Linked DNA regions of Homo sapiens: region 1 is linked to region 2. Evidence: fine-mapped expression QTL. A gene starts in region 2. The other region holds a variant in brackets. All regions are shown on one strand. Distances are between the middles of the regions. Region 1 overlaps ZGLP1 (zinc finger GATA like protein 1). Region 2 holds the start of RAVER1 (ribonucleoprotein, PTB binding 1).

What was found.
Region 1: its variant is fine-mapped to the expression of RAVER1 in whole blood (TOPMed, PIP 0.95).

Annotation. Positions count from the first base shown.
Region 1 is chr19:10,304,282-10,307,136 of GRCh38, reverse strand. ZGLP1 (zinc finger GATA like protein 1) reads left to right here. Exons shown (of 5, transcript NM_001409033.1): 3 at 1,185-1,291; 4 at 1,654-1,747; 5 at 1,929-2,334. The coding sequence ends at 2,046. It overlaps FDX2-ZGLP1 (FDX2-ZGLP1 readthrough), which reads left to right. Exons shown (of 9, transcript NR_176052.1): 7 at 1,185-1,291; 8 at 1,654-1,747; 9 at 1,929-2,334. Among named protein-coding and RNA genes, the nearest start is that of ZGLP1, 4.1 kb to the left of the region's middle. RefSeq lists an enhancer at 1,076-2,275. The variant C/T (reference allele first, on the strand shown) is at 1,369.
Region 2 is chr19:10,331,754-10,334,654 of GRCh38, reverse strand. It overlaps RAVER1 (ribonucleoprotein, PTB binding 1), which reads left to right and starts at 1,126. Exons shown (of 13, transcript NM_133452.3): 1 at 1,126-1,366. The coding sequence starts at 1,148. It overlaps ICAM3 (intercellular adhesion molecule 3), which reads left to right. Exons shown (of 7, transcript NM_002162.5): 5 at 1-127; 6 at 247-495; 7 at 596-879. The coding sequence ends at 798. RefSeq lists enhancers at 1-101, 726-865, 1,106-1,325, 816-1,732, 1,733-2,649 and a silencer at 1,498-1,721.

The sequences.
Region 1 (2,855 bases), 27 kb after region 2:
TTTGAGATGGAGTTGCACTCTGTCGTTCAGGCTGGAGTGCAATGACACAATCTCGGCTCACTGCAACCTCTGCCTCCCGGATTCAAACGATTCTCCTGCCTCAGCCTCTGGAGTAGCTGGGATTACAGGTGCCTGCTACCACGCCTGGCTAATTTTTGTATTTTTAGTAGAGATGGGGTTTTGCCATGTTGGCCGGGATGGTCTCGATCTCTTGACCTCAGGTGATCCATCTGCCTTGCCCTCCCAAAGTGTTGGGATTACAGGAGTGAGCCGCCACCATGCCTGGCTGCTTTTTTTTGCTTTTGTTTGTTTGTTTGTTTTTGAGACAGGGTCTTGCTCTGTCACCCAGGGTGGAGTGCAGTGGCGCAATCATGGCTCACTGCAGCCTGGACCTCCCAGGCCCAAGCCATCCTCCCTCCTCAGCCTCCCAACTAGCTGGGAGTGCAGGCCTGTACCACCACTCCTGGCTATTTTTTTTGTTTGTAGAGACGGGGTCTCCCTATATTGCCCAGACTCCCATCTCTTTTTAAAAATCAATAAATCAAATTTTCAAAGAAAAAAAAACTGTTGTATTGGGAAGCCCATTTTACAGATGAGGAAACTGAGGCACAGAGTAGGAGATAATGTGTCCAGGCTCACACAGCAAGGACATGGAGAACTGGGATTGGAACCTGGCAGGCTGTCCCTGTGCTTACTATTTTTCAAATAATAATAATAATAATTAGGTCGGGCACGGTAGCTCATGCCTGTAATCCCTGCACTTTGGGAGGCCGAGGTGGGTGGATCACTTGAGGTCAGGAGTTCGAGACCAGCCTGGCCAACATGGTGAAACCCCGTCTGTACTAAAAATACAAAAATTAGCTGGGCGTGGTGTCGCGCGCCTGTAGTCCCAGCTGCTTGGGAGGCTGAGGCTCAAGAATTGCTTGAACCCGGGAGGTGGAGGTTGTAGTGAGCTGAGATGACACCACTACACTCCAGCCTGGGCAACAGAGCGAGACTCCATCTGCAAAAATAATAATAATAATAATAATAATATTACTAATGAGAGGCAAAGCCAGGCCATTCAGATATTAGTTGCCTCCTCGGGGGATGGCTGATACCTTGATACTAAATCTTCATTTCGGAGGGCTGTTGGGGACAAGCTACAGATCCCCCCCAGTGCTAATACCTTGTCTGCCCCACAGCCTGCCCTGCAGTAGCCGTTCTCAGGAATCCCCTGCAGATGCTGTTGGGGGCCCTGCAGCCCACCCAGGAGGCACCGAGGCCCACTCAGCAGGCAGCGAGGCCCTGGGTGAGTCCTGAAAACCCAAGAGCTATAAATATTTTGGGGGCCAATTTCCTGTCTTCCCTGCCTTTCTCCCTGCCCCC[C/T]CCTTCTCCATCTTGCTTCCCCATTTAGAGCCCTCAGGGAGGAGTCGCAGCACCCCCCTCCACTTGGGCTGAGTCACCCCCACCCCCAGCTTCCTCCTCTGCGGAATGCTGCCATCTGTCTCCCTTCCTGGCTTTGCTGTGGCTTAGAGCTGGCAACTCCCAGGGCTGATCCAGAGCTAGGTGGGGCCTTTACTGAGACCCCCACAAAATGCCCGACTCCGCACAGGCATCCCGAGCTCACATGCTTGGCCTCTGACCCCTGCCCTTTGACCTCTGACCCTTCAGAGCCCCGGCGCTGTGCTTCCTGTCGGACCCAGAGGACCCCGCTCTGGAGAGACGCTGAAGATGGGACCCCTCTCTGCAACGCCTGTGGGATCAGGTCCTTAGAATGGAGGAGGGAGTTGGGGCGGGGGTCCCCAAATCAGTCCACGTGTAACCAGGATGGCCTGTGGGGAAAGCAAAAAGCAAAACACCTACCTCTTGGGAAAAGTGGTTTCCTTGTGGCGGTTTCCGGGCCCCCACTGCATCCTAAATGGCAGTTTCTTGTCCCCCAACCCTAGGTACAAGAAATACGGCACTCGCTGCTCCAGCTGCTGGCTGGTGCCCAGGAAAAATGTCCAGCCCAAGAGGCTATGTGGCAGATGTGGAGTGTCCCTGGACCCCATTCAGGAAGGTTAAACCCAGCTTCACCCTGCTGAGCTGCTGCTTCTGCCTCCGTTTCACCAGTGGGAGAATGGGCAGAAGCAGCTCTCCTAGGAGGATTGGGGAAAGAGCCGGCCTGCCTCCTCTCTGCCATCTCCAGATTCAAGGATCCCGGGGGAAGACCCAGGCCTCAGGTGGCAGAGCCTGCTAGGGGTCACCAGCCCCTTCTCCAGTCAGCCTTGGCCGAGGCCCCCTCAGGAGACGCTCTCAGGAAGGATGAGCATTGTTACAGCAGGGACAATAAAGTACAGAGATATGCCGAGAGAAAAAGCCTGTGATTTGGGATCCCGCCTCCTGTGCCCCTGTGCCAGCCCAGGAAGGTGGACAGGTGTTTTCTCGTTGGGGTTGTGAGGGGCGTGCACACACGTGCGCATGCACAGAGACACAGTCTTATCCACAGGCAGCAGCCCCCACACAGGGAATTAGCCACATTTACCACAATGTCCCATGCAGGGAAACAGCCACTACCCACAGACACACACAACAGATACAGAAAGACACACACAAGCCGGGTGCAGTGGCTCACGCCTGTAATCCCAACACTTTGGGAGGCTGAGGCAGGAGGATTGCTTGAGGCCACGAGTTTGAGACCAGCCTGGGCAACATAGTGAGACCCTGTTATATACAGAAGGGAAAAAAAAAGACACATGTCTAGCCAGGCACAGTGGCTCATTTCTGTAATCCCAGCACTTTGGGAGGCTGATGCAGGTGGATCACCTGAGGTCAGGAGATCGAGACCAGCCTGGCCAACATGATGAAACCCCGTCTCTACTAAATATGCAAAA
Region 2 (2,901 bases):
CAGCCAGCTCAACTTCAGCTAAATGCTACCGAGAGTGACGACGGACGCAGCTTCTTCTGCAGTGCCACTCTCGAGGTGGACGGCGAGTTCTTGCACAGGAACAGTAGCGTCCAGCTGCGAGTCCTGTGTGAGTCGGTCACCCTGACCTTTAATCCCTCCACCCCTGCCCTGGAAAGATTAGACGCTCCTCTGCACCACTGTGCCTCGGGTGTGTTGGGTGTCTGATCACACATGGTGGTTCCACAGATGGTCCCAAAATTGACCGAGCCACATGCCCCCAGCACTTGAAATGGAAAGATAAAACGAGACACGTCCTGCAGTGCCAAGCCAGGGGCAACCCGTACCCCGAGCTGCGGTGTTTGAAGGAAGGCTCCAGCCGGGAGGTGCCGGTGGGGATCCCGTTCTTCGTCAACGTAACACATAATGGTACTTATCAGTGCCAAGCGTCCAGCTCACGAGGCAAATACACCCTGGTCGTGGTGATGGACATTGAGGGTGAGCTAACACGGGGCTGCGGGTCTGGACCGGTAAGCCGGGGGGCGGGGGGGTTGGAGACAGAAGGGACGCATATTGACTTAGCGCTTTCTCTGCACAGCTGGGAGCTCCCACTTTGTCCCCGTCTTCGTGGCGGTGTTACTGACCCTGGGCGTGGTGACTATCGTACTGGCCTTAATGTACGTCTTCAGGGAGCACCAACGGAGCGGCAGTTACCATGTTAGGGAGGAGAGCACCTATCTGCCCCTCACGTCTATGCAGCCGACAGAAGCAATGGGGGAAGAACCGTCCAGAGCTGAGTGACGCTGGGATCCGGGATCAAAGTTGGCGGGGGCTTGGCTGTGCCCTCAGATTCCGCACCAATAAAGCCTTCAAACTCCCTAATCTGTGGTTTGATTCCACCCGCGCTGCAAGTCTCTCCCACCCAGGTGCACATCCACTGAGTAGCGTCGCTGCGACGGAAGGGGGCGGGGCCTGTGGCGCGCAGACGCAGCTTGAACTCTTGAGAGGTGGGCTGGGGCTTAGCCAACGGGGCAAGGGGGGCGGGAAGGAGGTGGGGTTTCTCCCAGCCAATCGACGGGCGCGCCCTCGTTGCCGCTCTATGCCGCTCCGCCCCGGCTCGCTGGTCCCAGAAGGCGCCGGGTTTCCCAAGATGGCGGCGGACGTGTCCGTTACTCACCGGCCCCCGCTGAGCCCTAAGTCTGGGGCCGAAGTCGAAGCCGGCGATGCCGCGGAGCGCCGGGCGCCGGAAGAAGAGCTGCCGCCTCTAGATCCAGAAGAGATCCGGAAACGCCTGGAACACACCGAGCGCCAGTTCCGTAACCGCCGCAAGATACTGATCCGGGGCCTCCCGGGGGACGTGACCAACCAGGTATTGGGGGGGGCGGTGTAGGAGCGTGGCGGGAAATACCACGGTGCGCGTGCGCGGGGGGAACCGGGCGACACCAACGCTGAGGTGCGCGGGGGTCGTTGGCGGGGGCGCCCAAGCACCGGATCCACGCGGGATCGGGAGAGACCAAGAGCGGGACGTGGGGGGGCGATGATGAAAGGGGAAACCGACTGCGAAGTGAGGGAGGGCGTTGCTAGGGGCGACCACAGGCTTGGGCGACACCAAGTGATGGAAGCGGGCGGGGAATGGAAGGGGGCGGACAGCTTTGGTCCTGTTGGGGAATTGTGAATGGGCTGGTACATTGGACCACCAGTTGCCCCCTGCTTGGATGATGCTTTTCTCCACCCACTCTACCACAGGGTGGCGGGACCTCACATCCAGAAGTTTCAGGACTGCGGAGAGTACGCCCCTCCATATCACGCGTTTATTCACTGCTCTCAGAGATAAATCCGGAAGTTAACAGCAGCCCCTGGGTCTCAGCCCCCAAAACCTCAGGATTAATTTGGGAAAATGGGGTCTTCTGCCACCAGCCTACAGACCTACAGGAAGGAAGCGAGGCCTGTGTTCTATGGAGCCCCTCGTGGCTAATCTTCCTGCTAGGAGTGCCCTTCTCATGGGGCCAGCATGGGGCAGCGCTTCCCAATGCTCTTTGGACCCAGGGAAATGGCATCTATACTGCCCTGCCCTATGGCGGTGAAATAGGTTCTCGCTTCCTGCTGCTGAGATTCCCTGCTCTCCGGCCCACCAGCACACCGGGTGGGCACGTGGCTAGTGGAACCCCAGGGATGTTGGGAGGGGCTGAATTTGGGGACAGATCGGGACAGGGATCATTAAGGATGGTCAGGTTTCTTTCTGGGTCTTCCTCTCAGTGTCTGCAGTCTCTCAGCTGGGAACACATTGTCTCTCCTGCAAGATGCACAGTGTGTCTGGTCCCAGCAGGCGCCAGCACTTTGCCTTCAAAGCTGGCTTGAGAGGCTGGGCATGGTGGCTCATCCCTTTAATCCCAGCACTTTGAGAGGCTGAGGCAAGAGGCTGTATTGAGCCCAAGGGTTCGAGACTAGCCTGGGCGGTATAGTGAAACCCTCATCTCTACAAAAAATTTTTAAAAATTAGCCAGGCATGGTGGTGCGTGCCTGTAGTCCCAGCTACGCAGGAGGCTGAGGTGGGAGGATCACTTGAGCCTAGGAGGTTGAGGCTGCAGTGAGCTATGATTGTGCTACTACACTCTAGCCTAGGTGACAGAACAAGACACTATCTCTAAAAAAAAGAAAAATAAATGAGCTGGCTTGGAAGAGGGCAGCTTTATCAGCAGGAGGAAATTGGGAGGCATGTGAACCCACACAACGTGGGGCTTACTAGAAGGTGGGCTCCCCAGTCAGGTACCCATGGGTGGCTGCGCTGCCCAACTGCATGGCCTCCAGCAGATCTCTTCACTTCTCCTAGCCTAAGTTTTCTCATATACAACATGAGTTTGTTAATACTTCACTTACAGAGTTGTTGGAAACAGTGAATCTTGC